Linked DNA regions of Homo sapiens: all the other regions are linked to region 1. The links come from fine-mapping of genetic effects on gene expression. A gene starts in region 1. Each other region holds a variant in brackets. All regions are shown on one strand. Distances are from middle to middle.

Region 1 (8,191 bases):
TTCAAATTAACTTTAAAAGTACACGGGAATTTTAGAGAAAACTGTTAGAATAAGAATTATAATCACTGAATTTTGACATACACATCACCAAGTTATAAAGCCCACAAGAGACACTCTGTGGCATCAGTCAGGTCAGCTGAATGTCACAATACACCCTGCCCCTTCTCTCTGCTTTATTTTTCCCCTTAACACTAATCACCGCCTCACGCCCTATTTTGCTTATTTGTTTCTTACATCATTCCTGACTAAAACATAAACTCTATGAGGGCAGAGATTTCCACCTGTTTTGCTCATCACTGAATCACCAGTTCTGAGTGCCTGAGACACAGATGGTCCTCATTGCTTATTTGTGGATTAAATAAATGAAGGCAGAAATTGAGGCCCAAAGAAACTAAGTGCCTTGTATATAGCTGGTAACTGCTGAACCAGTTAAGTTGTGCCAGCACTTCTAAACTCTCCTTTTCAATTCTCTAAGCTGTCTCTTTCTTTGAAACCTTCATCTGCCTTTCCTTTTTTTTTTTTTTTTTTGAGACAGAATCACTCTGCAGCCCAGGCTGGAGTGCAGTGGTGCAATCTCAGCTCACTGCAACCTCCCACATTCCGGGCTCAGGCAATCCTCTGGGACCAGAGGCACGTGCCACTGTGCCTGGCTAATTTTTATTTTTTTGTAGAGATGAGGTCTCACTATGTTGCCCAGGCCAGTTTCAAACTACTGAGCCCAATCAATCTGCCCACCTTGGCCTCCCATACTGCTGGGATTACAGGTGTGAGCCACTGCACCGGGCCATCTGCCCTTTACTACCAACTGTGAGACGGATGGAGCTGTATATCTGAACTCTATGATAATCTACAACCATTCTTTGAGGGTTTCTAGCACATTTTATCTAGCATGCTTCTAGAACTCCCATTACATAGGGAAAATTGTGTTTTTTTTTCCAAAATTCCACAATTTCTCCAAGACCCTATATAAGAAAAACTACTAGTTCATGAACAGCTAAACATAATACCATTGGCCTGAATCTGACTTTTAAAGTACTTTAAAGACAGAATAGACTATAAGCAGCCTAGTTGCAAATCAGTTGAATTCTTAGTGGTGTAATTTCTTCTTTAAAAGTAAGCACTGGGCTGAGACAGCTCCCTGGTGAAGGAACTAAGAGTGAACAAACAGAAGTCAACACGTAGGTTACCCCTAAATAGAAGAATGAGAGGGCAAGTAACAAAGGGAGCCACAAGAAGAAGACAATGTAATGATAATCAGACTCTTGGGGCTTTTTCCTATGGAAATATATCTTGGAATGTGTAACTTTTTACTAAACAACTATTAACCAAGTGTGAGACAAGAATACAGAAATTTTCAGATATGCAAGGGATCAAACAATTTAACTACCACATACCCAGACTAGGATGATTTCTCGAGACTCCTGAAAAACTAAGAGAGCAAGCCAAGAAAGGAAAATACAGGATACAGGAAACAGTGGGTCCAATTTAAGAGAGCAACAAAGGGAATGTCCTTGGCTGACAGTATCTAGCAAACCTAGATAGCAGTCAACATAGAGTGGGGCAGAGGATGGAGGGTCTTAGAGGGAAGTCTCTCAAGGAAAAGTACATTTGACAGAAAAAAATTATACAGTTTGAAATAAAATGAGGCTACCATAAAACTAAGGCACAAGAACAAAGGAAAGGTTATTAGAAACTCCAAGGGAACAAAAATGGCATATAAGAAAGAAAATATAATCATAGATTAATTGACTCCATGTGAATATTTATTTATTAGTAATATATATTTTTAGAAGTTTAGAGTTACCCAAGACACAAAACAAATATTTAATTATGGTTATAACTGAATAGGATATAAAAGCTGTAAGTGTTATAAAAGTAAAAACTTCAGAGTTTGTGAGGGGGGAGAGGAAAGGACAGCTGAAGGTGGATTACAAAGGCTGACACTGTCATCTTACGAAGTGGGGAGTCAAAAGAGACTGCAGTTGATGAAGGAAGAAATAAAGGTGTAGTAACATTACATGTAAAAGATACCTGTAGACCTAATCCCCTGATTCCAGATGTGGATCAATACACAATAGATACATTAATATAACTGTATCTAGAAGATGAAGAAAAATGATGCCAAAAATAGACAAATCAATAAAATAGATGAGTTAAAAGTGGTTATATATGGAGATCGGGATTGAGGATGAGGGGAAGTGGGATAGAAGATAGCTTCTTGCTATAAGCTTTTTGTAATATTTAATTCTCGGTAACCAATGGTTAGTACTACTTTAATGGAAATAAATTCAAATAGAGGGAGAGAATAGGTTCATGACTCAGTCAAGTCCCAAATTCTTTTGCAAAGAAACTCCTCTTTCCTATTAAAAAATTCCAAGTCCTTGTTGTCTTGTAACTACAAGTATACCTTCTGCAATTACTAATGAAGGGGGACTTTGTAAAAGTTACCCTATTTCTTATAAAGATACAACTACAGATTACAAACTCAATTTCTTAAACGTAAAAGGAAATGAGGTAGGGTGAAAGTAAGAAAATACAGATTTATTTTTTGGAACTGTAAATTCAAAATTAATGAGCTATAACGCCTTAGCTGCTTCTAGGTTCTTCCTGTGCTGATGACAATTCAGCAGTGAACAAAAAGAAAATTACAAAGTTAATATCCCTTGCCTTCTCTCAACCTCAAGATTTTTGGCAGCTAGAGTTTCACATTGTTAGGCAGAAAGGTTTAACACAAGCATATGGGATTCATTCATGTCAACTATTCCTCTTTAAAAAAGAATATTTTTTATTTAAAATATTAAACTTCCTTTAAAGACTATTTCAGGAGAAATAAATGTCCCCTCCTTCCTATTCCCTGCCAACACTCCATTTCAAAGTTTCAGCCTGCCCTAGGAAATTGAAAAGGAACTCCCTTGCTGCATCCTAAATGTCTCTTCATTCTAAATGCAAAAGCTTCAGGACAGTCCCCAGGGTGAACAGCATCTCCTGGATCCTCAAAACTACTTCCAGATGTAAGCCCCCAAGATAGACGACCAGATCCAGGTTTCCAACCCCTTTCCAGATGACAGCCTCTAAAAAGATGAGTGTGGCAGAGACCTAGTCCCCTGACTCCAGATGTGGGCCAAAGAGCACATGAATAAATTGAAACATCTCTCCCTACCACATGGAATTCCCTAAGGGAGAAAGCCTTCTGATGCCTCTCCAGCAACACTCCACATTAAGTCTCCAGATACCTAAGTCTCCATAGATCGAAGTGTTATTGTTCTGTCTCTTACCCCTTTTTTCTCTCTTCCTGTTTTCCATCTTCAATACCAAACCACAACAGCAAAACACTGTTCCTCACCTGGGTCAAGTTGCATAACTCTGGACACACTTTGGGGATTAGGTTATTCTGAAGGACTAGAGTCTTCAGGCCAGGCAGTTTTCCTAATGCTGAGGGCATCTTTGTCATCTTCTTCCCATTCAAAGTAATGATCTTCGTATTTTTACCACCACTCAATGCTTTTATTAACAATCTCTCAGTCATGATCTTGGAAAAGAAGTAGAAAACAAGGTAACCATTAGAGTTCTTTATTATACAGCTTTAGAACCTCTAATTACAGAATTGGTGTGTCATAGAAACAAGAACATTCTGAGATCCACCATGTTGAAGGGGGGAAGCATTAGATTATTTTCCTATGTGAAAGATACGAAAGGAAAGTAGATGGTCCAGGTTTGGGGCAGGAAATGTATAATGTAAGCCTAAAATAGCTTATGCCTGCGATATTAAAGCTATCAGAGATTAATGAGGACACAGAAGTGAACTTCTAGGAGCTCCCACTAGTCTAAGATGGAAAATATTAAGGATCAGAAAGAAATAATCTAGAATAGACTGAAACATATCAAAACACATTAAAATCTGAGTTCATAATGGCATTTTTTAAAAAGAAACATTACTCACCCTGGGAATTACTAGCGCACCAACTCAGTCTGAAAATTGATAAAGGAAAAAATATAAGCATTTATTCTGCTTTTCCAGTACAAACTGCACTTAAATATAACTTAATAGTTAATAAAGTTCTTATTCACAAGAATTGAAACTAATAAATGAGAAAGACAAAATAACTAGAATAATCACAATTTTTGCAAATTCTAATAAAATAATGGAGCTATGCAAAAATCATAATTGGAGACTGAAAGTATTAGATGAAAGGTTGATGAGGAACTTTATAATCAAGTGATCAGGTTAATAACCCACTAATCATTTTAGCATCAATAAAATTGAGACAATCACATTATAAGCCTTATGAAGTAATGAATTAAAAAGTACACAGCAGCACCACCTATGAAATGTTCCTGTCCAAAAATTAAATCTGAATCTAATCATGGCTTCAAGATCTAACTACCATTTACAAAAAAACAGAACTAGAGAATAAGTTAAGTTCATTATAGGGAAACAGTCAAATCTATAACATGGAAGATTCTACAGGACTGGTCCCTGGTCCAATGTCACAAGGTTTCACCAACAAATGAAAGACATTAATAAAAAGGAGGGAAAACTGTTACGATGTAAGTGAAACTTAGGGCAAATAACAGCTAAATGCAATGTCTGGACTGTATTTGAATCCTCAGTTGAATACAAACATCTCAGGGAAATTTGTTCATCGGCTATTAGATGAGAGAAATTAATTCTGTTACATGTGAAAATGGTATGGTGGTAGTATTTATTTTAAATGTGCTTAACATTCAGAAATGCATACTGAAATTTTCAAGTGAAATAAAATGATATCTTGAGTTTTTTTAAAAATAATCTAGGGGGGAAAGTGGGTGGAAGAAACTGATCAAACAAGATTGACAAAATGTTGATAATTATTAATGCTGAGTAATAGACACATAGGGGTTTGTATTTGTCCATTCTCGCACTGCTATAAATACCTGAGACTAGGTAATTTATAAAGAAAAGAGGGTTAATTGGCTCACAGTTCTGCAGGCTATACAGGAAGCATGGTGCTGGCATCTGCTCAGCTTCTGGGGAGCCCTAAGGAAGCCTACAATAATGGTGGAAGGCAAAGGGAGAGCCAGCACTTCACATGGCCAGAGCTGGAGGAAGATAGGAAGGAGGTGCTACACACATAAACAACTAGATCTCAGGATAACTCACTCACTCACTAGCAGGAAAACAGCACTGAGAGGATGCTAATGCATTCATGAGAACTCCACCCCCAGGATCTAATCACCTCCCACCAGGCCCAGTCTCCAACACTGGGGATTATAATTGAACATGAGATTTTGGAGGGAACACAAATCCAAACCATATCAGCATTCATTATATTAGTCTTGTTATTTTTGCATATGTTTAAAAATTTCCAAATAAAAGATTTAAACGGTGACAAAAAGGAGAGGGAGGGGAGTTGTGGCCAGTAACATTTGATTATTATCACAAGCCCACTAGCACCCAGATAGGATGAGTCTTAGAGGCATTAGGATTACACATGTATGTGACACACTTAGATGTGGGTTTCCAAAAACTTGAACATTATAAAATACATTCTGCACTGAAAGTGATCTGAACAGAAATCAATCCTTCCTTTGGCATTCAGAAATCACTTTATTTATTTATTCAACAAATATTTACTGACCACCTACTACATAGTCAACACTGTTGCAGGAGTGAATGAAAAAGATAAAAATTTCTGTTCTCAAGGAAATTCCATTCTAGTAGGGGAAGAAAAGCAATCAGATAAGTAAATCTATTATGTTAGATGGTGATTTGATGCCAAGGGGGAAAATCTAAGCAGAAAAGAGAAATAGGGAGTGTGGGAAATGAGAAGTTTACAATTTTAAATAGGATGACCAGGAAAGGCCTCACTGAGAGAATGCTATTAGAGACAAGACCTCTTCCAGTAAGAGAGTAAAATCAAGTGCCAGAATTCTAAAAAAGGATCATTAAATTTTTAAAGGGATTATAATGAATATCAATATCATAACAGTAAATCAAGAGATGCTAATAGTGACTTTCAGTTGCTAGAAAGATAATTTTTCAGCTTCTTAATCACTGCTGTTTGCCTTCCCTCTTCCAAACCTATGCTTCGTCTTCTTTACTTTGATATTATTTGTTTCCTAAGAATAATAAAGCTGTTACTATCAAAACAAACTGATCACAAGGCTTTGTTTAAAAAAAAAAAATCCATGACAATCACCACCTCTTAAGTAAATATCGGGTGGCTAGCATCCCAGATGACACTGTCCAAACCCTGGAAATTTGTTACTGCTTTAAGTAGGTAAACAAACCAATACAATCTGACACTGCTTTCTGTTAATCTGCTGAACCTAGAAAACCTGGTTAACATTCTTGAGTCTTTCTTCTCCCTTACTTCCAATATATAATCAATCCTATTCATACTGTCTATTCCAGTTATCTATCACTGGGAAACAAACCACCACACATCTTAATGGCCTAAAACATTTATTTTATTGACAAATCTTTTTTTTTTTTTTGAGACAGAGTCTCACTCTGTCGCCCAGGCTGGAGTGCAGTGGTGTGATCTCAGCTCACTGCAAACTCTGCCTCCCAGGTTCATGCCATTCTCCTGCCTCAGCCTCCCAAGTAGCTGGGACTACAGGCACCCACCACCACACCCAGCTAATTTTTTGTATTTTTAGGAGACAGGGTTTCACTGTGCTAGCCAGGATGGTCTTGATCTCCTGACCTCGTGATCCGCCTGCCTCGGCCTCTCAAAGTGCTGGGATTACAGGTGTGAGCCACCACACCTGGCCTTTATTGACAAATCTTAATCTGGGCAGGGCTTGCCTATAGTTCTCTTAGTGACAGCTATAGCAGCTCAAAGTCTGCAGCAGAAACCATCTAAAGGTTCACTAATCCACATCTGGTGGTAGATACTTCTTGTTGGCTAGGGCCTCAGGGTGGTCAGCCTCTACATGTAGCCTCTCCAATGTAGCTTGGACTCCCTCCCAACATGGTGGCTTGGTTTGAAGGTTGAGCATCCCAAGAGAGAAAGTGGAGTGGAAGCTGTATTACTTTCATGACCTTGCTTCAGAAGTCATACAGAATCACCTCTACCACATTTTATTCATTAGAACCAAGTGACAGAAACGAGCTCATATTCAAAGGAAGACAAATTAGACTCTGCCTCTTGAAGGCAAGTGACCAAAAATTTGTGGACATGTTTTAAAACCCACCACAATCCACCCTGTAGCCATGAGCTGTTTACATTCCTCCCATATGCAAAACAGAGGCACTCTTCCTGGAAAGCCCCTTTCCCCAAAAGTTTCATCTATTTAGAACCTCAGGTTCAAAGATCTTATCATCAAAGTTAGGTACAAAGGTAGATGAAGCTCCTCTGAGGCAGTTCCTTGAGTTCAGCTTGAGTGCAGTTCATCCTGACCTGAAGACCTATCAACTAAAGAGACAAGTTATCTGTCCACACATACCTAGAATACAACATAGGTAAAACAAAGGGCAGGCAATAGTTAGTCCCATTCAAAAAAAAAAAAAAAAAAAAGGGAAAAATCAGAGGAACAAAGTAGCCACCGGTTCATAGCAATTCTGAAATCAAATGAGGCACAAGGTTGTCATTATTTTTGTTTCTTGTTTGTTGTTTTTGAGATGGAGTCTCGCTCTTTCACCCAGACTGGAGGGCAGTGGCACAATCTCCGCTCACTGCAACCTCCGCCTCCTGGTTCAAGCAATTCTCCTGCCTCAGCCTCCCGAGTAGCTGAGATTACAGAAACGTGCCGCCATGCCTGGCTAATTTTTGTATTTTTAGTAGAGACAAGCTTTCGCCATGTTGGCCAGGCTGGTCTTGAACTCCTGACCTCAGGTGATCCACCCGCCTCAGCCTCCCAAAGTGCTGGGATTACAGGAGTGAGCCACTGCACCCAGCCCACATGTACTGCCTGGGATTAGCTTTTGGTTCCCGTTTGGGCTCTTGATTCCATCCTCTTGAATTTCTTTCCTTTTCCATAAAATGTAGCCCATGTTTGCCAAGTAGTTTCCTCAGTCTGCTTCCTGTCCATAGAAGTTCAAGGTGCCAAGGGCCTCTCATTTTAATTCTTTTTTGATAACAGCTTTATTGAGATAGAATTCACATACCATTAATTCAATCATTTAAAGTATACAAGTCGATGGTCCTTAGGATATTCACCAACTTGTGTAACTACCACCATAATCCATTTTCGAATATTTTCATCA
Region 2 (8,191 bases), 130 kb before region 1:
TGATGGTTTCTTTTTCATTAGGGTCTCACCAGGATATCAAAAAGCACAATTTAAATACAATCAAGCAGGACTGTGGCAGCATCTTGAAAACCCAAGGCATTCTCCACCAACTTGGAAGTATTCCCAATATAATTCAATTCTCCTGATGAACATTAAGCACATTCTTAGCTAGAATTGTCAAGTCTTAATTTGTCAGTAATCACCAGCTTTCACAAATGCATAGCCTTTCTTGGAATCACAGGAGCCCCAAGAGATCAACTCATTCAATCATCTGTATTCTCTAAATGCTTTTCCCCCAGTAAAAGCAACATTTTGTTTAGATTGAAGCTTCATAGAGGTGTATTACAAGCCTGTTAGGCATAGGCAGTGCCTGATTCTTTTATACAATGCTTTGAGCCTTGTGGATGTTCTGTCAACAAACACTAACTCCATGACATAGGCCAATTTATGATGTCTGAAAACATCATCACTAAGTCTCCCCACTCCTTGCCACCTATTCAAGCATTCTGGCACTCTGATTTCCCCAAATCAAACCAATGTGATTTTTTTAGATGCCTCTGAAATTCAGCAAGACATGTTCAACCCAAAACACTGGTTATGGGGCACATGCCCTGGAAAATCTACTGGTAAAATATAAAAGGGAATATACTTAATATTGTAAGGAACGTAGTATGTTGCAGTGGAAAAGGACTTTTTTTGTTTTTAACAATAAAGTATCCCTTTCATGGAAAGTGAAGTGTGGAATCAGCAGTAAAATACTTGATATCTTTTCATCACAGATTCTCTGAGTTTCTCTAAATATTGCTCTAAAAACATAGTGTATTAGAATTCTCATTCATAATACAGACCCTATATTATGGGAAATAAAAATAGCATATTTTGGTTAGAAATAAATGTATTTGATTAGAAATAAATCTGAAAATGCTTACATTGAAAGACTTGAGTTCCATGAAAATTTCTATCAGGAAAGTAGTCCTTTATTTATTGCATATGTACTTTAAAAATACATTCAGGAAAAACTTAATTTCAGATTCATTTTGTTTTTCTTAATTAGTCATTCTGGTCCTAAAAGAACTTGTGAGCTTGAAAATCTTAGGTAGTCTTTGTTATATTACACACTAACAAAATTATACAAAATAATAGATGAAGATTTCATATACCTACTATTCTAAAAAATGACACAAAGACCCATCACTATGACTATGAAGTTGTTATTATATCAAAGGAAAAGCCATTGTAGTAATGTCAGATAATTCTCTGACCTCCAGTTCCTGCCTAGCCGTGGTAAAGAAACAAAACAGGGAAAAAAGACAATGCTCACATGTGCACACACACACATACACACACATACACACATACACACAGAGTTCCCTATGTCATACAGTATTTGCCTCCTGCCTGGAGATCAGAAACCAAACCTACTGGCTCCATTTTTTTTCTTACAGTTTTAGAATTTAAAATAATCCACCAGAAGCTGCAAGTTGAAACACAGTGATTCAAAGTGTCAGACTCTTAATCCTTCAGAAGAAACAGAAAAAGAAAAGAAAAGAAAAGAAAAAGAAAAAAGAAAAGAAAAGGAAAGAAAGGAAAAGAAAAGTATTTCATCGCTGACACAGCCAGACCTTATTAAGTGGTCCCTTTCCAAGAGTGTGCCTTCTGACTTTGCAACAGGCTCCCCGTGTGTGATTTTGGCCTTCTCGCCATTACAAGAGCCTTCTGTACATGTCCCTGTATTTTTGCTATCTGAGACTACAACATCTAAGGAAATAAGTTAATTGTTCACTTGTTAAAACTCCATATAAGACTAGTCTAAAACAGGACTTAAATTTGTAGAACAGCAATGAAATCATAGTCATCTGATGATATAAGGATATAATTCATTCCTCATCAGAATCCATGCCTTTGCTTATATTTTTCTTTCCAATGGCCTGCTGAGCATTTCCACTAATGTCCAGTTAGCATCCTTAATTTCCCACGTCTATCATAAAATCAAACTCATCCTTTTCTACCATATCCAGGCCCCCTTTCCAAATCTCTTACCTTGCTACTTGGCACCCACATTCTTATAAATACCCAGATAAAACCCAGATAAGATGGAAAGTTTCCAGCTATTCATGTCTCCACCCACTTTGCTCTTTGATGCATAGTAAGTTGATTCTCTCTCTAAAATAAAGGTCTTCTAAATCTATCTCATGGTCAGTTCCCCCTGCCATAAACTCAACTGTCATTTAGTGTACTCATGCAGACTAGTCTTATAAATTCAATTTGGTCTTTTTCCTCCTTGCTTGATTATACCCTCTTAATTCATCTTCCGTGTTGTTGCCATCACTTTTAGCCATTCCCTGTTCCGTAGTATTCAGTATACATAAAGCATAAGCTTCTAGAAATTCAAGGTCCTCCATGACATCTATTACAAACATTGACTGAACACATACTGTGATGCTAGGCTATGTGCTTTTCATAAATTGATTCATTTAATCTTTATAGTAACCCCCTGAAAAGGGACTATTTTTTATGTTACAGGTAGAGAGGTCACTGATAGAGGTCCTGAGAAGTGAGAAAACTTGCTTCTGGTCCCACTGTGGTAAATACAGGAATAGGACCAAAATGTGCCAGGAACCATCTGGGAGAAACTGTTTTCCGATTAGAGGGAATTGCATAGAGAAAGTCCCCAGGTGGGAATAGCATGGGAGCTTCAGAGCACTGAAAGGAAGACAGTTGGGAGGAAAGTGAGCCTAAGGAAAGAGTGGCAAGAGGTGAGACCAGAGAAGAGGTAAGAAAAGCTAAACCACAAAGTGCCTGTGAGAGATGTCAAGGAGTTTGGACTTTGTCTAGAACATAACTGGCAGCTAACCAATGTTTCTATGTATGCTTTGGTTCATAGCAGCTTACTCATATTAAACAAAAATTGGACAAGCCCAAATTGGAGAATGGATGAGCAAAGTGTATTACAGTTACGTTATGGAATACTATTCAGTAACAAAAAGGAACACACTCGTGATATATGCAACAATATGGATGAATCTTGAAACCATTATACTAAGTGAAAAAAAAGCCTTGCAGAAAAGAATACATATTGTATGATTCCTTTTATAGGAAGTTCTACAACAGGCAAAAATCTATGGTGGAAAAAAATATCAGAAAAATGGTTGTTTGCCGGGGGTGAAGGGGCAGCATGGAATTTACCAGAAAGCAGCGTTGCCAGATTAATTTTGAATTTCAGATAAACGAATTTTTTAGTACAAATGTGCCCTGTGCAATGTTTATGACATTACTATATAAACGGGTATCCATTGTTTGCTAACATTCATATTTACCAGGGCATTCTATATTTTTATTTGTAAAATCCAGCAACCTTACAGGGAAGGGACATGAGAACATTTTTTGGGGTGGTGGCAATGCTCCATATCTTTATAAAGGTTTGGGAATGTATTTGCCAAAGTCTTGTAAATTTGTGTATAAGAATGTTCATGTAAAAAAGATAAAAAGATAAGTATTTAACTCTAGTTAGTGATATGCACACTGAAATGCTAGAAGGGAAATATACTGATGTTTACAACTTACGTCAAAATGCATAAAAAATAAGATAGACTGATGACTGAATAGAGGAATAAATAGATATTTAATAAGGCAAATATAGTAAATGTTAATTTTAGAATCTAGGTGATGAGTATATGGGTGTTCATTGCAAAGTTCTTCCAACTTTTCTTTATGTTTGAGAATTTTCATAATAAAATGTTAGAGGGAAAAATTCATGCCCTGCCCTCATGGAATTTACACTATAGTGGAGCAAGACAGACAATAAATAAATGAGTAAGTAAACAGTAGAGTGAAATAGAAGGTGATGAGGGAGAAAGATAAGGGAAAGGCCTTTGTGCATGTTGGGGTTGGCATCATAA[C/T]TTTAAATAGGGTGGCCAGGGAGGGACTTCCTAAAGGTTGTGGGGAAATGAGCCAGAACATCTGAGGGAACAGTGATCCAGACAGAGGAAATAACATATGGAGAGAGAGACTGGCAGGATTCGAGCAGGGAAGAGCTTGGTCTGACATTTTAAAGGAATCCCTTTCTGGTCATTGTGCTAAGGACAGAAAAAAGCTCTCTGAGGCTTTGTCCGTCCACTCCTAAGTTTGGATAATGTCTTCCTTATGAGAAGTAGCAATAAATATTTGTTGGATGAGCACTTAGAAACATAAAATGAAAATCTTTTGGTGAGATATGGATATTTTATTCTTTGAAGTAGTACTTTCTTTTTCAAACCAATGTTACTTGAATGAGGCATTTTAATTGGTCGGTTTTAAAACATTTTAAACGCACTTTTTTGTCCTCTATTTGGAAAGATAAAATAATAAACCACAAGAAACCCCTGGTTTCTTCAGTCACACCAGAAAGAAATCACAGGCTTTAGTTATAATTAAAGTGACTGGAGGCTTTTTCTAATTTTACTAGGGGAGTGATGGCCGTGATCCAGCTTCCCTACTTTCCAATACACTCACTTTCTTCCTCTCTCTCCAAATATGTATCAAATTACTTACAAGAATAAAAGCCAGTAACTTCCCATAAAGTGGCCGTTGTGAAGCTCCTGGCCCATGCAGCCCCTGCCCCAGGCTGTCTGCCTGAAACTCATGATCCAGGCTTAATGCTGACCAGCTTGCTCACCTTTAGTCTGCAGTGATATTAATAAGCCCCATCTCACTTCTTAAGGCCCAAACACTTACCTTTGAATGTGTCAGAACTCTCAGCTGCCCGTGGATGGCCTGAATCTATGATTATATATCCTTTGCCTTCCGCATCCCACCTTCTAAAGCAGGCTTGCTCTTTTAGTTTTCATAGCTCATTTCCTCACTCGCCAACACCTATGTTTACTACCGTGCTGTCGTATTAACCATCTTCACTCACTCCAACCATGCATCTAGAAACAAGGCACATGTCTCCCATCACCTCAGGTGATTTCTCTGGCCCCTCAGGGCACTGACTCTAATGAGACAAGGACCTTTTAAAAGTCCCTTCTTTAATTCTGGTGTGCCATGGCTGCTCTATGAGTCTCCAGATCCCTTTTGGACTTCAGATCAGGAGGCTTCATGCCATTTGGAGCCTTGTGGCCTACAGAAGGCTCCCAAAGTACCAGCAGTAAATTTGCATCTTAAGCTGCCTAGGGACATTCTCAAGGCCACGAGGGAAAACAGTTCTTTAGCAAGAGCAAGTGACTTCCAGCCACTTATTTTCTAATAGCTGCAGTCTAGAAAATAACTTAGACAAGAAGGAACATGCAGAGATATTTTATGAAGAAATACCAACGAGAGTTTCAAATGTTATTCTGGAGATGTAAGAAGCTTCAAAATAAAAAAATTAAGTCCAGCTTCATTAAAAACTTTCTTGGTAATCTCCATTAATAAATATGTTAAGAAAGAAAACAATGCTTTTTAACATAAAAGTCCTAAAATAGCTAATATACATAATGGTTTATTGCTTTGATTATAGAAAAATAATATCAATACTTTAGCTAGATGTAGCAACTCTTTATCCACTGAATCCAACTAATACCATTGTGAAAAGTTGTTCGTAATATTGAGTAATTAAATGGAGAAAATCAATTTGGATTGCATTTACAAATAAGATACACAAATATAAAGAATCAGAGACCACATTTGAATTACTCTTAATAACTGAGGACATAAATAGAATTCATTAATAATCCTAAAATAATATATATTCTTCTGTTTGAAACTACTCCCCCACAACATAGATGTTAAGAGTTTATAACAAACAGTGAAAGAAACTTGAGTTTCTCTTTTTTATTCTCTGAGGCAAATGTGAGTGAAAAACAAAAATTCCAAAGGCCAGCCACAGAAGAGACAAAACAGGAGAAAAATTGAAGCTAGATAATTCACAAGAAGTTATTTCTCCAGTTGCTTTAACTTCATCAGAATAAAAGAAAGTTGGTTGTAATTGTTAGAAAATATTTTGCAGTTCCAGATCCCAAAAAGAGAGTTTCAGATGGATTACAGATTGACAAGATAACCACATTCTCAAACACATACACATACATGTATATGTGGAGTGAGATTGATTAAGTTTCTAATTTAATTAATCAGTGATTCAGAACATTAGTTGACCCCACAGGGCAGAAGCAGATGCATTCTTCCAGAATCTGGTTACTATGGTAACACTTGATATATGACCATGCAACCAGTAACAGTAAATTTCCTGACATCAGAGTCATGAATTTTTTTAGCACACATTTAGCCTAAGCTTTCAGCTTTTCAAATATTCAACTGGTTCCTATCCATTATATCCATAGGACTCACTCATTCACTTGCTTCAGATCTCTGATCAAATACTACCTTGTCTGATTCAGGCCCTCCATAAAAAGTATTCCCATAATTCTCTATCTTCTGGATCCCCTTTTACTTCACCAAAGTACTTATCATTATATTGTTAGCCCATTGTTTATTGTTTGTCTCCCTACATTAGCAAGTAAGTTTCATGAAAGCAAGGGCCCTGCCAGTTTTGTTCATGCCATATCATTAGAACAGTGCCTGGTAGATAGTAGCTCCTCATTAATATTTATCTAATAAGTGAATAAATGGGAAAAGAACAATTTGTGAAGAAGAGGTAATCATAAGAAGCCATTATTATATATTAGCTTTTTTAAGACTTTCATGTTAAAAACCATTGTTTTCATCCTTAACGTATTTATTAGTGGAGATTACTGAGAAAATTTTAAATGAAGCTGGACTCCATTTTTTCATTTAATAAAGCTTCTAAAATCTCCAAAATAACATTAGAAACTCTCATTAGTTTTTCTTCAGAAAATACCTCTTTGCATGTTCCTTGTTGTCTAGGTTATTTTCAGGACTACCACTGTTAGAAAATAAATGTCTGGAAGTCATTTGAGGTTCTATTTTAGATGTCTTGAAATTGAGAAGCTTGGAAACATAGGTTAAAATGGAGAAACAGATTTAGATACTACCCACCGAGGTGTGGTAAATGAAGCTAAATGAAACTGGTGAGAGTAGAGATTCATTTGATAAAGAAAAAGCACTCAAAGAGAAGAAAATGAGACTGAGTAGAGAATCCTCTGCAACACATGGTTTTGAGAGAAATACAGAAGAGGATTCTGTTAAAGGGATGGGGAAAAGGAATGGACCTCAGGGATGTAGTTCCAAGAGGCAGGAGACAGCCAATTAAGCCCAACCTTCCATGGAGTACCAGCCAGAGGAGGAGCAGCTGGACTGGGAGTAAGTCACTGATGACCTCTGAAATGCCAGTTGCCATGACATGGAGGAACAGAAACCAGGTTGCAGTACCTTGGAATCTGACAAGGACAGGAGTAGAAAGGAGAAGTTAGGGAGCCAACATTTTCTTTTGTGTCACCTGAGATAGATGGATGGATAAAATTTTCTCCCCACAACCAAGACAGCAAATACATTGTAGCTGAGATCATGGGGTTAAAATGGTAAAAAAAAAAAAAAAAAAAAAAAAAAAAAAAACACTTTTCTAGGGGGCAGGGCCAAGATGGCTTACTAGAAGCAGCATTGTTCAGAAGCTCCCATCAAAAAAAAAAAAAAAAAATCATAATAAGCATGTGAATCCTTCACCGGCAACCAAGGTATCCAGGTTCCCTCATCAAAATTGACTAGAAGGCTGGCAAGACCCACGAGAGAAGGAAGAGCAGTGTGCTGCAGCAGCCCACCTGATAGCCACACAGGGAAGGGCAATCCCCTCCCACCAGAGAAGGGAGGCAGTGAGTGAGCATGCTACTCAGCTGGGGAAACTGTGCTTTTTCCACGGAACTGTGCAACCCACAGATCAGAAGATCCCACTTGCAAACCCATGCCACTGGGATCTAGCATCCCAACCCCAGAACTCGCAGATTCTTATAGCCTCTCAGCTGGAATCTGTTCAAGCCTAATGAACTCCCAGAAGGAGGAGCAACCAGCACCTGCTGCCACTGCCTGCTGTCTAAGCCATTTGAGCTCCTTGGGGAAGAGGCAGCAGCCAGCACTGGGACTCACAACTGCCTAACACGCAAAGCTCCCTAGGCAAGGGAAAGGCGGCACCCATTTCTATAGCTCCAGGCTGCGCTTTTTCCCCTGCTGGGGCCAGGGAGGCTGGATGGCTTGGTCCCAATTCTTGTCCCCACAGCCCAACGCATTGGCTGTGTCAGTCGGTGGCCAGAGTGCCTCTTCAGGT
Region 3 (8,191 bases), 430 kb after region 1:
ACTAATAGTTGTCATATTATTTATATTAAAATCATGCCACTCATTTCTCTAAGAAGTATAGTAGCTATACCCCATAGGGCTAATTTGTAGCTAAAGACATTCGTATGATAAATTCAATCTACCTCTCTGCATCTTATAACAGTGATTATTTAAGGCCAAATCAACTTGATCCTGGGTATTAGGGTAAACGCTAAGCTTCTTTAAGAAAGATCCCCAAATACACAATGGAAATGAGACAAATGTTTATTTCACTTTTATGTAATAGGGCAAGGTAGCATAGTGGGCCAAGTCTACTCTCCAAGGACATCCAGCAACTCAGATTCCCTCCACAATGCTGCTCTATTAACCCCTGGGACTCAGTCCTCCTCTGAATAGTCAAATTAGCTTGAAGCTTTTCCTAAGGTCTAGTCCACAGGAAGACAAGAGAAAGTAACTTCCTTTGAAGCAAGTGAGGTAGAAGTTGCACTCATTGCTTCTGATCACTTTCCATGGTGATATTTAGCTCTATGGTCACATTTTGTGCAAAGAGAATGGGAAATATGGTCTCTAGCTGGATATCCATGTCTGATTAAGAATGGAAGGGCAGATTTGGGGGGCCCACTAGCAGTCTGCCACACTCACATAATGCATGCTATACTTGATGAGTAAATGATTAATTGGCACATGAGATAACAGTCCTTTCTCCCACCCAATACTGATCTCATTGAGAAACAAAAGAATAACAGACAGAAACTAACGTAACATTTTTATTAATAATAGAGGCCAGATTGGAGAATATAGCTTTATGTCTGTTAGCCACAGGAATTTGATAATGTCAAATCTCAGAATACAGCAGATTTAACCAAGTTCAAGGCAGCATTGGACCCAAACGAGTCTTCTTATATGGGAGAAAGAGCTTGTCCTTGGAGGAGAAGGAGAACATATGCTCTCCACAAGAAATGATGCTCCTGAAAGGAACGATGGCTGAAGCTCAGCCAAGGATACTTTTACTCTAATCAAATTTACTACATATATCATTGGTTCCACCTCGCTTGAGATGGTGTGGGTGAAGGAGTAGAGACAGTGCAGCATGTTCTTAGGCATACTCCTAAGAGTAAGAATGAAGAAATCAAATATGTGACTGAAATCAAGCCAAATTGGCTATCAATGCATTTCTAAAATCCCCAGTTCTTCACCTTTCAGTTTCTTTTGGTCTCAGGCTAATCTCTTCACCAACCCTTCCTGCTGTAGCTCCGTTCCTTCTAATGTATCTCTGCTCTTGCTAATTTCTGCTGCATACAGTTTGCCCTCTCTTTAAGATTTTTTTCTCCACTAATTTATTTTCACTGGGAATATTTTACACAACACTGTCTTCAGAGTTCTGGTAGAATTACCTTTAAGTTCAGTCTTAGACTTCTTCAGAGGAGGGAGAGGATGTTTGCCCAAACTGTGATTAGTGTTTTTGAGTGGTTAATCCTAATGTATACTTACTGAAACAAATTAGGCAATAGCACCTCTGTTTATTGCATCCTCCACATGACACTACTTGGAGTAGCCTTTGCACAGATCCTTGTTCAGTGGAAATACTAATTTAAATGGTGGAGTGATTCCTTTGAAGTATCCAGAGCTTTACCTGATTTTATATCAAAAGCTATCACTATGATCACCCATATAAACAAAGGTATCAAAATGGTATTTAGTGCTATAGTACCCTCCAGCAACACTGTTGTAACTCTTCCAGAACCAAATATATTCACAGAACCCCAAACTCAGAAAAAGTTGGGGGCAACTTCAAAGGAGCTATCATTTTACTATATTCTGAAGCAAGGAATTGAATGTCAAATTCATTCCTTCCCACTCTGCTGAATTTGCTCTGATATATCAATTATGAAATAAGCTGGTCCCATATTAACTGTGGGAAAAAGTTGCACACTGACTTGAAATAATATGTGACTAAAATAGTATTCATTTATTATATAGGGAACTATAAAATAATATTGAATATTATTGCTATGAAATGCTTATTTTAAGTGCAACTAATGCCAGTTTTAAAAAAATAGCTGTAAAATGGCATTTTAACATCCAACACATGAAATCCTGAAAAAGAGTTTTTGGACTCTTTTCTTAGCATGTTTTGCCACAAAATAGCATTTCCAGTATTATAGTACATATTAAACTATATTAGCATCCTCTGATTACTTGTCTGTCTTCTCTAATTGGCTGTATATCCCTTGAAGGCAAATAGTCATCTCTGTACCTCCAGAGTAGTATAGTCTGAGCTCCATGAATAAATAATTAATGAAAGCTCCTGGAGCTTCCAGGGTCAAGGTTAATAGTACTATACTTAATCGTCTAATTAGTATTACTACTTCAAAAGCCTCAGAAAATTGTGTCACATGCTGAATCTTACAGCCTAAGTGGTTAACATGGTGTAACAAGAGTACTTTACTCACGTCTCAGATTTCACTTTCTGTTCCTCTGCTTTTGTGTGAAATGTACTGTTTTTTTTGTTTATATTTTCCCTTTTCCCCTCTTCTACTTGTCATTCCTCCTCTGCATAGCTGTTCCTATTATGGAAATAAATTATGTTTAAATGTTTATGAATTGAGCAAAGTTGAACTTTCCTGGATTAAATAGCAATACGGTATTTAAATTACCATTTTTTTTTCTCAGAACGAACATCTTTCTGGATTCCTTTTAATACTGAGGGCCTTATAATTTGACAATGTAAATTAAAAGGCATCTAACATAAAAATGATACATAAATTTGTTTTTTTAAAAAAAAGCACACGCATCATATGTAAGAATTTATCACTATCTTCTGCTGTCTCAAATTTCCACTTTAAAGAAATATAAAAATTTGTGTAAGACTAGCAAGCAGCAACTGCTTTTATAATTGACTTTTCCAGTCCTATTCATCTTTTTTGATTAAACATAAGGTATAATCTGTTGAAAATTCAGTAATTCAAAAAATGAAGAATCATTTTTGATATCTATGTCTAGATTAAATACTGAAAAGAACTTTTTGTAAGGTACTTTACAT[A/T]AGTGGAACTGTGGGGATTATCTAGAATAGAAATACCATTGTGCACCAAGGGTTATTTGTGACCATGTGTAAATACAAAAATAAATTTGGCCTATAGTTTAAAATTTTACTTATATGTAACTTTATTGATAAATTTTCATGCAGTAAAAACTGTATTATACTGTCCAGAATTATATAGATGTATTATATATTGCAGATAGAGATGTATGCACCATTTTATAATATCAAAAAGTTAGAGGTATGTACTTTGGAGTTGAGTTTCAGATATCTTCTAAAATTAATTTCTGAAATAGTAATGTAACAATTTATTTTTCCTTCTCTTTCTAATGAAATATAAGAATTACTGAAGCATAAACATAACTGATCATGAATAGCTGCAGCAACTACAATAGTTAGCATACACATTAGACCTCTAATGGTCTTTGAATGAAAACCTGGAGGTAATCAAATGAGCAAAGTGACAAAAAGAGATTACTGATTTGTCTGCAAAAAGGGATTGCTGAGTGTTTCATTCATTTATCCAGTGAATGGCTATTGAATATCTAATATATGTTAGGCCAGGTGTTGGGCCCAAGGAATCCAGCAGTAAACAAGACACAGTCTTCTGTACTCTCGTGGTTTACAGTCTAGCTGAAACAAAAATTTTCATAATGAAATTACAAGTGAGCATACAAAAAAAGGATGGTTCATTGGGCTACAGACTCATAAAACCTAGTCTGAGAGGCTAACAAATTAAAATGTGTGTGTGTGTGTAATTATGAGTTTAATTTTCCTAACATAATCAGTTATTTAAATGATAATACTTCCAGAGTTAATCTTGGTTAAAGACTCTGTGCTTTAGGAGACATGATGAAGCCCTCCCCTAAATACCTTCCCCAATAGTGTTCTGAATAAAGGTTACAGTCAAGTGTATGATTAAATGCCATTCAACAGGAAAAACAAAATCTATTGAGTGCCTAATAAGTGCTGGAGAACAAGACAGACATGTTTTGGCCCTCGGGTAGCTTCCAGTCTAGGAAAATGATGGCTGTTGAAGAATAATACAACATGATGAGTATCTCAGTGGGAGAAGGCCAGAGAGCCAAAGGAAGATACAATTTGGAAGCTGAGCCAGTCAGCTGTTGGCTGAAGGTTTCCAAGAGATTCGCAGACAAGTAAACAGCTCTACCTTTGGCACCTTTAGCATTCTGTGGGATTTGCTGTTCTTTGTCTCTTATAGAGTGTGTCTTTTCACATAGTTTTCATATTAAAATGCTCCCTTTTCCCCCAACACACACACTCACACATGCACACCAATGGCTCATGACTGGGTAACACAGGTAAGATCAGTTTTACGTTATGAAGGAGAACTGATCTTTTACCCTTGGCACTTTTCTTTCTTAAACTTGACTTTCCCCCTTCTTACTGCTGAAGTTACAAGACTCTGAAAGCAACAATTAGGGCGTAGGCCTAGGGCAGTGGAATCAAAGGAGCCTCTTTGCTTTCTTTTCATCTAGGCTTTAGGCCAGCGGCACAAAAGGAGACTTTGCGGAATGCCATGACTCAGCCTCACTCACTAGGGCTCTGGTTTAGTGCCAGAGACTCATCGTAAAGAATGCGTGTGTGCTCAGACTTTTTCATGGGTCCCTAAGCAATCAAAAGATGGCTGATTTATTTTTTAGAGACTTGAGAGTTCCAACAAAGCTTCTTTTTAACAGAGATTTATCTAACAGAAAACAAGATTACAATATGTTGTTTTCTTTAGGAAGGATACTCAAAATTTGCAATATTTTTGTTGTTTTTAAAGTATAGAACTCTAGTTGACATTCACACCGTTTCCACCAGTTTAGGGAGTAGGGTTGCTTGCTTTGATAAGATCACATGATATTGATTGAGCTGATTTTTCTAGGGTCAGGTTTTCCCCTGTTGTCAAGAGAGAGGTCACCACAGGCCTCCCTTCCCTCTTGCTTCCAATCAGATGGCTGGCAGAACAGGGTTGGAAGAGAATTTGGGGATAGAGGGGTTGTCCTCTCTTCCTTCTTCTCTCTAAGTTCGGAGCACAGCCTACACCACATCTGCAGTACACAGGGAGCTAACAGGGTCATCTTGTTTGTCTTTCTCTCCATTTCCATTAGTGCCCACTGGAGTCTAAGAAAAGGAAAAGAAATGAAGAGAGAGCATCCTAAGAGCCTGCCTTAGCTTGAGGCTATTCAGGCCTAATAAGCTCAGGAAAAAGAAGCCTTTCATGTACTCAGCCAAGCTTACTAGAGCTTTGTAGTGGCTTGAAGCTAAATTCCTAACTAATAAAGTTTTTTTTTTTAACTGTTGTTGCTTAGTTACTTTCTCCCTTGAATCATTTGCTTTATGAGAATACACCTCTCAGAGGTATCAGGGGAGGAGACTTAGTTAAGGCGAGTTTAGAAATACTCTTAGCACTCTGACAAAACACATTAAACAGTAACCCAATCTCCCTCAAATTTCTAAATAATGTACACATGAACTATTGATTTAAAAGTAAAAAATGCTGTTTTTTTTGTAGAATATATTTTACTGATATTGGTGTCAGTAAAGGCCTTGACATTCACTGTAAACAGCATAATATACAGAGCAATTACATATTTGTAAACCAATCCATGGAGTTCAACAAAATCTTGACAGTGAAGCCAAGACTGCCCACGCTGAATAAAGGATACCCATACTACCACCTACACTGTTCATGAGCTGCTCCACTTGACTTGCTAAATTTAGAATTAGAGAACTATTAAATATTAAGAGAGAGGAGAATGGTTTGAATGCTGGTAATAAAATATATCTACCGTGAGTTACTTTGCAGCTATGTGGTTGAAATTTTACAATGAATAGAACTACTAATCGCTGTAATATACCATGCTAGACTTTCCAAAAGCAAGTGCTAACATAAAAATTTCCCTTTGCACACATTCTTAGAAATGGATATTATCTGTTTTTAGCAAGAGTGTCGTGTAAATTCTGGCATTTATATACTGAGTCTCAAAGATCTCTACCTACATGGTTTTCATATAAGTAGAGATCTATATGGTTTGCTGCTCTTACCCACCCTGTGAGGTGAGTGGGTCAGTCACAGCTGTTGAAAAAATAGCTTTGTAGAGTTCCCCTTCTCAGCTGGCTGCTCTTCTTATTCATCGGGGTGTCACATATATAGTCTGAAAAGGCATGTTAAATATTATAGTAATTTGAAAATGAAGCCAAAAATGTTGGTTTTATAATGTAGAACACAAAAACAAAGCTGGAACTAGGTGGATGTTGAGGCTAAGATTCTCAATGATAATGGGGTGGGGGAAAAGGTGTTCTGTTTATTCAAAAAAGGCATGGGCTTTAGAAAACTGATAGATAATCTTTTTCCTAGATGATCTCACACACTGCCTTGGTTTTACCAACTACTAAAATACTGGTATCTTCTATATTTGCATCTTTAGGCTGGACTTCTCTTTCATCTCCTGACTGGTATATTCATTTACTTACTTAAAAACTCCTTGGAAAAAAAAAAAGTCAGCTTGATTCATACTGTCTCAAGGCATGAATGAATGGTCTTGCAGAAGAGGTTCTTCTACAGCATCTGCAGATAAATAGGTTAAGGAAGGCAAGTTATGGAGGCAGCAAACATAGATGGCCTTCATCAAATCTGTTGTGTTCAAACTGCTTTAGTTGATTCTTTATAACATGATTTTTCTATTTCTGAAAAGTAATACAAATTTTTAAAATTCTAAATTATTTTTGATCTTTAACAGCCCCTCAAAGTGAGATAAGCAAACCATTAGGCTAAAACCAGATTTAAATTAAGCACAAGTTACTAGTGGGTTGATTCATGACAGGCATTAGCCCTCTCACAGATAAAATGTCTACATAGTCATTACCAAAACATAATATGAGGTTATCTGTTGTTATGCTAATAGGTAAATGCTTAAACAACAATTGCAAATCAAGTTTACAAAAGCAAATGTGATACCTACTAATTTACAACTGAAATAGTGATTATCCCCTTATTTTCAGAAATTGATGTTTCAAAACATTGAATCAGCAGAAAAGTTGGACCTTGAAACAGGAACTGCTACTTAAAATAATTAAGACAAGGAATCACACAGACCTTTATATAAGGCTTTAGTGATTATTAAAAACTCCTATACTAGCCAGAAATGTATGAATGCATGACTCCCACTGGCTTTAATAGACATTTTGTGTAAACTCAGCTGTAATATTTACAACTGGGAGGTATGTTTTTCAAGGTTTTTCTGCGGATATTTGCACAATGAAGCTTCTCTTTAGTATTTGTCTATTCTTGCTCTTATTTCTCATTGATTTAACTATGTATCATATAATAGAAAACATTTCACCAGGGGGAACATTTTTATATTTGTCTTAAAATATGAGTAGTTCCATAAGTGAATGTTGTAAGTCTTAAAAACCTAGTGCAACTTTATTCTAAGTCCTATTTGACATTTTTCTTTGTGTTTTGAAGTTGAAACTGAACACCTGGAAAGCAATATTACTGGTTTAATATGTCTCCACTTATATATTTTATTTGAAAATGCCCATAAGAAACCTTACTGAAAATATAGGAAAGAAGATTCACTTCGAGAAGCAAAATGGCTTTAACGCAACAAAAATCTTTTTCAGAGTGAAAAAGCAGCAACACCAACACAAAACTGATTTTATTCTTTCTACCACCTGAATCATGCTTAAAATAAAGTGCTTTCTGGCTGCTTGAATAGAACAACAATGGATTTCATGATAACTTTTCCAAAGATTTATCAAACAATATATTACCAAAAACCAATACTGCTGAGATAAGCTATACATAGAATTTAATGGCAAAAAGATAATTCATTAAAATTATATGCATCTACATATGTATACAAATACATTTCAAGCCTCTGTCTAATGAATTGATAACCACCATGTGGCATTCTAAAATCATAGTAGATACCTAGGTACTTAAACAAAAATATAATTTTATCACCTTTTCTTTTTAACTTAAGCTAAAATTGAGTATGTCAGTGATCCCATTTGATTTTTCTCTTCCATTGGACAATAGTTTCTAAATATCATTTTATACTTCTCATTTACAATGAATTTGGATTAAGTAAAATATGTACAATGCTGGCTCCTTGGTGCTTATGTGCCTCATGAATTGGTAAGTCACAAAAAGACTCT

Which allele goes with the higher level. Alleles are on the strand shown, and positions count from the first base shown. SD is a standard deviation of normalised expression in the study named.
For the expression in gastroesophageal junction of the gene that starts at base 3,569 in region 1, allele T in region 2 goes with a lower level than allele C (small effect, 0.34 SD a copy in GTEx).
For the expression in putamen of the gene that starts at base 3,569 in region 1, allele A in region 3 goes with a higher level than allele T (moderate effect, 0.64 SD a copy in GTEx).

What was found. PIP is the estimated chance that this variant, and not a neighbour inherited with it, causes the effect.
Region 2: its variant is the best candidate, but not a certain one, in a credible set for the expression of LRRC69 in gastroesophageal junction (GTEx, PIP 0.65).
Region 3: its variant is the best candidate, but not a certain one, in a credible set for the expression of LRRC69 in putamen (GTEx, PIP 0.77).

The regions. Positions count from the first base shown.
Region 1 is chr8:91,097,997-91,106,187 of GRCh38, reverse strand. It overlaps LRRC69 (leucine rich repeat containing 69), which reads right to left and starts at 3,569. Exons shown (of 8, transcript NM_001129890.2): 1 at 3,344-3,569. The coding sequence starts at 3,526.
Region 2 is chr8:91,224,941-91,233,131 of GRCh38, reverse strand. It overlaps a transcript of SLC26A7 not described here. Among named protein-coding and RNA genes, the nearest start is that of SLC26A7, 20 kb to the left of the region's middle. The variant C/T (reference allele first, on the strand shown) is at 3,900.
Region 3 is chr8:90,667,445-90,675,635 of GRCh38, reverse strand. No RefSeq gene overlaps it. Among named protein-coding and RNA genes, the nearest start is that of TMEM64, 25 kb to the right of the region's middle. The variant A/T (reference allele first, on the strand shown) is at 3,023.